Linked DNA regions of Homo sapiens. The protein of the gene in region 1 interacts with the protein of each later gene in a biochemical or structural test. Each region holds a gene or a part of one and is shown in the gene's direction. Other genes may lie near its edges.

Region 1 (3,814 bases):
TCTTGGTCCACCCGGCCTTTGATTCCTTTTTCCTGTGTGCATTTTTGAGCACCTTCTGTGTGCGAGAGGCCGTGCCTGCCCGAGAAGAGAAGGAAACACCACAATGAGCCTCGGACACCCACAGTCTGAAGGGCCCGGAGTAAGCCTCAGACGCCCACAGTCTGGAGGGCCCGGCGCTGTGAACGAGCAGTCACAGGGAACAGCGTGCCCTTATCGCTGACACAGGCTCTGGAGGGCCCGGCGCTGTGAGTGAGCAGTCATAGGGAACAGTGCACCCTTATCGCTGACACAGGCGAGGGCTTCGTCTTCTCACAGCTCTTATCTTGGGTGTCACCCCAGCCAGAGTCAGGGCTGATGGCGGGGGGTGGGGGGGGGGCAGGCTGTGGTCAGGGACCTGCAGGAGAGGGGAGGGCCTCGCTTCTGATGGGCGACGTTCATTTACACACAGCTCTGCGGCCCAAACGGCCAGGCTGGATCCTGTCTTTTAAAAACCTTGCTAATTTGGTTGATGGAAAATATCATCTCAGAGTTCTGTTTTGTGAGTCCCCATTGCCATGCGGGCAAACATTTTCATCCACTAAGGGGCCGTCGTGTTTCTCTGGGAACGTGGCGTTCACCGTGTGGGTGAACTTTTTCACGCACTAAGGGGCCGTCGTGCTTCTCTGGGAATGCCGGGTTTGTGGCTCGTGCCCACTGCCCTGCAGGTGCATTCTCTTTCCCCGTAGCTTTTTGTCTGTTGATGCTTTCAGCTCTGGATGTCCTATTTTGCGTACTTTTATTGTTTATGGTCAGCCTTTAACTGGGGGTATGATATTTCTTTAACTGGGGGTATATTTCTTTTTTTTTTTTTTTTCGAGATGGAGTCTGGCTCTGTTGCCCAGGCTGGAGTGCAGTGGCGTGATCTTGGCGCCCTGCAACCTCCATCTTCCGGGCTCAAGCGATTCTCCTGCCTCAGCCTCCTGAGTAGCTGGGACTACAGGTGTGGGCCACCACGCCTGGCTAATTTTTTTTTTTTTTTTAAAGTAGAGACGGGGTTTTGCCATGTTGGCCAGGCTGGTCTCAAACTCCTGACCTCAGGTGGTCCACCTGCCTCGGCCTCCCAAAGTGCTGGGATTCCAGGCGTGTGCCACTGTGCCCAGCCATGGGGTATATTTCTTAATGTGTGGAGTTGTTTTTCCTCATTTTTCTGGTCCCTTTAGAGATGGCACCCTGGAGTGGCCAGCAGAGCTCAGGGGCCTGCGGCCCAGGCACACAGACAATGGAGCTGGCCCTGCCACTTTGCTCATCTGTGGTGCAGGTCTGCTGAGGGGCCGTGAGGGTCCTGCAAGTGAAGGTGCTTGAGGCCTCAGTGCCTGTGGGGAGGCCACGTGGCACCTGTCAGCTGTTAGCGTCTTGACTCTGCCTTTGTGGATATGGAATTAGAGATGCTTCTCACAGTAGTGGCTAAACTGTCAGGAAGCCTGGCCGTCATCTATGGTCCTCTTTGCCCTCATGGGTGGGATGCCGCCTAGTGTGATGGCTGAGAGCTCAGGCTGTGACCCTGAGTGTGTGTGGCCACGGGCAGGCTGCTCACCCTCTCCGTGTCTTGGTCTCTAATCTGTGCCTGGGGATGGTGGAGCGTCATGGGGCCATACAGGAAGGATGGGACATCACACATCGGCTTCCTGGGGTGTGTCCTGCTGACAGCCCTCTGAGGCCAGCCGGTCCTGAGGCTCTAGGGGGGACGCCACAGTGGAGAGAGGGCTCCATCCCCACCCTTAGGGCAGAGCCCCGTAGGAGGGACTGGTTTGCAACGTGAGTAAAATGGGTCCCCGTGAGCAGACACAGCTTTTGTGCTGCTTCTTACTGAGCCCCGCGCTGTGCCTGCTGAACTGAAAGATGTGTATTAGAGAGGGCAGCCATTCCCACCTCCTCCAGCCGCGCTACGTGTCCGCAGGCCAGGGCGCCTGCACCATGACAGGCTTCAACGCCCCTGTCGCGGGGACCCAGGGAACACCTGTCTCCTCCACTTGCTGGATTTGTGACTGGGCGGCAAACATTTTCTAAAGTCTCCCGCTACGACCCCTCGGCTGTCAGGAGACTTCTGAGAAAGCCGGGCCTCTTTTGCCCCAGCGAGGAGCTTTCTTGTGAAGAGGCAGTTCCCGGAGGGAGGCGTCTGTGCTTTGTAAAGTTTAGCCTCATGTGCTGCCTCTGAGGAGGAGTTCAGAGAACATCCGCTTCCTTTCTGTTATCATCTCAGCCTTCCAGCCAGAAAGAAGGAAGCGTCCATGGATCCCGTCCACGCTAACCTTGGGGTCCCTCTGCCAGCCCTGCACATCCTTGTCCCTGGGCACTGAGGGAAGCAAAGGCCCCGCCAGCCATGCCCAGCACTTGTGCCTGGGCCTTTGCAGAGGCTAGAGGCAGGGTAGAGGATGGAGAGGGTTTAAAAGGCAGGTTCCCAGGAAATTCCCTAGGTGTGGGATTGGAGGGGTGCTGAGGGAGGTGGCGGACCCTCAGGGGCAGGAGCCTTATGGAGTGAGCTGGTCCATGGAGCTGGGAGGCGTCTTCTAGTATAAATTCTCATTTCAGCTAAACAGCTTGCCCTCTCCAAGCCCGTGTGCACCTGAACCATCTCTGCTCTCTGAGCCTTGGTCCCTTGGAGGAGCAGGAGGAGGTGGAGGAGGAGGATCGGGAGGAGGAGGGGGAGGCCCTTTCTGTATTGGATGCACCGCCTGGCCCCAGGCCCTCCTGCCCAGCCTTGTGGCTCTGGCCGTCAATCAGCTCCCTTCTCCTGGCTTTGCTGCTGCCCTGCCTCTTGCTAGGAGGCCATGGTGTGCCTGTGCCTGGCAGGCAGTGTTGCTGCTGACCTCTCATCTGTTTTGGGTCCCCAAATCTCAGCCCTGTCTCCCTTTCGGGGGCACATCTTGATGCGGGGTCTCTGATCCCCTCGGGGCAGCAGGACATCCCTGTTTTCCAGCTGAAATGAGACTTCACCCCCAAAGGAATGGGCTCCAGTCCGACCTACTCAGGTTGTTAGTCACACGTTTCTATTGTGAAAATGACTGAGAATGTTGTGGGAGGTTTGGAAACCAGGAAGACCACCTGTCCCAATTCAGCCTTTCCTGTCATCACAGGGGACGTCTGGCATTTTAACAGACCTGGGCGGCCTCCTGCAGACAAGGCTCGGACCCTGCGGCCGACTCTGCCCCAGGCCTGGCCCCTGCTGATGGCCATGCTCCGGGCATGTGGCCTGAGGGCCTCACGGACAGCCAGCCTCCCAGACCAGAAAACAGCCCTGCCCGCCAGTGAGAGGGCAGACAGATGGACACTAATGTCCCCGAACCTAAGAAACAAAACCCAAAACCCTCATTTATGCTTCCACTTCCGATCACACGCATAGAAGGCCGAATACTGACCCCGAGCTGACCACCCCGGCCTGTGGGACCCGTGAGTATGGCCTGTGTGTGGGATGAGGCTCAGGATCAGGTGCAGATGACCCTGGATTATCAGGTGGGCCCCACGTCATTACGAGGGTCCTTATAGAGAAGGGGCAGGACAGGGAGAGGAGGGGATGATGGAGATGGAGCCGCTGGGGAGGGCATGAGAAGACCAGGAAGTGGGTTCCCCCTGGAGCCTCCAGAGGACCCCTGCGGGCACCGTGACTTCTGACTTCCAGTCTCCTGAGCTCTGAGGGATGCCTGTGTTGCTTTAAGACACTGACTGACTTGTCCCAGCAGCCAGAGGTGACAGTGCGGCGTGGTGTTGGTTCACCGAAGGGGTGGCATTAGTGACCATGGGAATAAGGGCCTCTCACCTGCGAAGGGCCACTCTGTGG
Region 2 (3,814 bases), on another chromosome or scaffold:
TAGATTCTTTGGAATTTTCTACCATAGTGTACATGTTTTTGTGTGAACATAAGCTTTCATTTCTCTTGGGTAAATACTAAAAATGGCATTTTGGAGCATATGGTAAGCATATGTTTAACTTTGTTAAGAAGCTGCCAGACTCTTAGACTCCCATACTGTTTTGAATTATCAGCTAGGTGTTTTGCAAATATTGTCTCCCAGCCTGTGTCTCCTTATCATTTCATTTTTTTAAGTGTCTTCTGAACACCACAGGTTTTAATTTTGATTAAGTACAGTTTACCAAGTTTTTCTTCTGTGGCTCTTGCTTTTACATTGTCTTTAAGAACTCTGCCTAACCCAAGATTATAAGGATTTTTCTCCTCTGTTTTTTGGTAGAAGTTTTATAGTTTCTGGGGTTTCACATTTAGATCTGTAACTCATTTTGAGTTAGTGTGTGACAAAAGGCTCAGTTTTTTTCATGTCAGTGTCCACTTGTTCTAGGGGCATTTGTTGAAAAAAGACTGTCTTTTCTCCACCTTTGTTGAACATCAGGTGACCTTACATGTGTAGGCCTGTTTCTGACTCTGTATTCTGTTCCATGTATCTGAGTGTTAGCTATACCACATGGTCTTGTAGCTTTCTTTATAGCTAGGCCTGAAAGCAGGGTCTTCCAACTTTATTCTTTTACAAAAGTGTTTTTGAGACACTTCCTTAGTTCCCTGCCTTCCATGTAAATTTTAGAAGTGGCTTACTGATTGCTACAGAAGTTCTGCCAGGAGTTTGAGTGGGATACCATTGAGTTTATAGATCAAATTGGGAAGAATTGACGTCTTAACGGTATTAGGTTTTGTAACTCCTGCACATGGAATATCTCTCCATTTATTCAGTCTGAAAGATTTCTTTTTATCAGTATTTAGTAATTCTTAACATGCAAATCTTGCATATATTTTGTTAGACTTATATGTAAGTTTTTCATGCTTTTTCATTCTGTAGTAAATATTACTGTTTAAAAACTTATATTTTCAATATGTAGAAATAAATTATATATATAGAAAAATACATGATTTTTGTTCATTGATCATGTATCCTGCAACCTTGTAAACTCACTTGTTAGTTCTAAGAGCTATTTTATAGATTCTTTGGGATAGTGTGCGTTCACTCTCTTGGGTGTTTATTCCTGTATGTTTTTTATAAGACACTGCACAGCTCTTTGTGGTGCTCATTATTACCTTCTTATTTTCCAGAGTGTCCCACTGGTCCAGACATCATTCCAATTGTAGCTGGTGTGGTTGCTGGAATTGTTCTTATTGGCCTTGCATTACTGCTGATATGGAAGCTTTTAATGATAATTCATGACAGAAGGGAGTTTGCTAAATTTGAAAAGGAGAAAATGAATGCCAAATGGGACACGGTAAGTTACAAAACATCCAAAAAGCAAAGTGGCTTATAAAGTAAATGTAATACTCCTAAGACTTATGTATTAGCTGTCAGGCTGATTATTAAAGTCCTTTCTAAGTATTTTATTCCCCCAAAAGTTTCTTACTCAAGGAATTTGCATTTAGTGAAAAACAGAAAGCATCCTAAATATATCCCATTGAAACAAAACATTGATTATAAGCATGTATATTCTGGTTACTGTGGCCAGTATTTTTATTTCTTTAATAGTTTTGATCCTAAATCTGCCTTTTCATCTAATGTGAAGTAGAATCCTAAATAATGTTATCTGTGTAGCAAGCTATTCAATGGAAAGCTGCTTCTTTCTTTAAAACAAACAAACAAAAAAAACCTTCAGTGAAAGCCAGATTCAAAAGGTTATATACCAAGCTTGTCCAACTCGCAGCTCGTCGGCCAGGACATGCAGCCCAGAATAGCTTTGAATGTGGCCCCAACACAAATTTGTAAACTTTCTTAGAAATTGTAATTATTATTATTATTTTTTTTTGGTAACTTTTTTTTAAAGCTCATCAGCTATCGTTAGTGTATTTTATGTGTGGCCCAAGACAATTCTTCTTCTTCCAGTGTGGCCCAGGGAAGCCAAAAGATTGGACACCCCTGCTATATACTATATGATTCCATTTAGAGGACATTCTGGAAAAGCAAAACTGTAGGGGCAAAAATCAGTGGTTGCTAGGGGCTGGAATGGGGGAAAGTGTTGACCACAGAGGGGCGTAAGGGATCTTCCTTGGGATGATCTTGATTGTGGGTGGATTTATGTATTTGAAAACTCACAGAACTATGTACTTTAAAAAGATGTATGTTCCTCTATGAAAATTATATCTCAGTAAACTTTGGCTTATAAAAATCTTAAAAGCCCTAAGTGACCGAAAGGTTATGTTAGCATTGAGTGCTTTGAAATATGGAGTCAGAGGGTGGGGTAACCAAATGTTGGCCTTTGTGTATTCATCTTTTGATACAAGAAAGCAATGCCAATCTTCAGTATTTTTAAATTGTAAATGAATTTTGTAGTTAGTTGCACTTTACTACAATTTGCTTGGGTTTTTAAAAATTATCAATTTTTTAAATTACAAATTTCAGAAGGGTAGAAATAAAAAAAAAGACATTTATAGTGTTCAAACACTATAAAGGGATTTTTTTTTTCTGATGAAATCATTAGAAACTATTTCTTTTACTTTAGCAAGAAAATCCGATTTACAAGAGTCCTATTAATAATTTCAAGAATCCAAACTACGGACGTAAAGCTGGTCTCTAAATTGCCGTTCGTATTTTGTTTCACTTTCTGCCTTTGCATGTGAACTTCTATCTTTTTTACTGCACTGTGTGTCCTTTATCACTATTGCTGTTCTTTTTTTAAGTCTGGCTTTAAATATCGCTATTGTGGCTTTTCTTTTTGTATGTTAACTTCGCGTTTAGAAAGACCGTAAAATAAGTAATGTGATATAGAAACAGCAGCCATGTTGTAGTGAAAAGAGAATGTGCTTTGCAATCAGTTAGACCTCAGGTCAAATCCCACCTCTTCCACTTAGTAAGTAGAACAGCATTGAGTCACTTCACTTCTCTCAACTGTCACAGGGAGTCAGTACTCTGTTTTGTATGGGGTGGTTGTATTTGGCAAATGCACTCCAGTATATGAAATCAGCCTGTCAGCTCTAATCCTCATAACAGTCCTGTGCCTAGAATGATATTATCCTATTATCTTTTGTTCTTTTTCTGTTTATTTATTTATTTATTTTGAGACAGTCTCTCTCTGTCGCCCAGCCTGGAGTGCAGTGGTGTGATATCAGCTCACTGCAACCTCTGACTTCCAGATTCCAGCAATTCTCCTGCCTCAGCCTCCCGAGTACCTGGGATTACAGGTGCCTGCCACCATGCTAGGCTAATTTTTTTGTTTTTAGTAGAGATGGGGTTTCACCACATTGGCTGGGCTGGCCTTGAACTCCTGACCTCCAGTGCTCTGCCCACCTCGGTCTCCCAAAGTGCTGGGATTACAGGCGTGAGCCACTGTGCCCCACCAGTATTATCCTTAAATAACAAATTTGTTATGAGTAAATTTTAGGGTTGGATAGTGAAAATTGATCACGAAATCCAAATTGCAAAATAGAAAAATATAACCTACTATGATATTTGTATGGTATGCAACTACAATATCATTATTGGTTCTCAAAAGATTTGAGATCAATTTCTTGAATATAACTTGAAATTTCATTAAAAGCCAGAAGACCATATATATGTATGTATATTATATATATATGTGTGTGTGTCTGTGTGTGTATGTGAGAATGATTCTAATTTTCAAATGTAAGTTTGTAACTGTTCATATCTGAATTTTCATGAAATGCTTCCAGCATATTCTAATAAAATCATGCAAGCCCCTAAA

The links.
Region 2: the proteins of COL18A1 (region 1) and ITGB1 form a complex in vitro, tested with the Homo sapiens proteins (one study listed by BioGRID).

Annotation. Positions count from the first base shown.
Region 1 is NC_000021.9:45,411,401-45,415,214, forward strand, and holds part of COL18A1 (collagen alpha-1(XVIII) chain isoform 4 preproprotein), read left to right. Parts: intron 1-3,814. UniProt on the Homo sapiens protein: Probably plays a major role in determining the retinal structure as well as in the closure of the neural tube.
Region 2 is NC_000010.11:32,905,944-32,909,757, reverse strand, and holds part of ITGB1 (integrin beta-1 isoform 1A precursor), read left to right. Parts: intron 1-1,223; coding exon 1,224-1,390; intron 1,391-2,614; coding exon of another isoform or gene 2,615-2,689; exon of another isoform or gene 2,690-2,695; intron 2,696-3,814.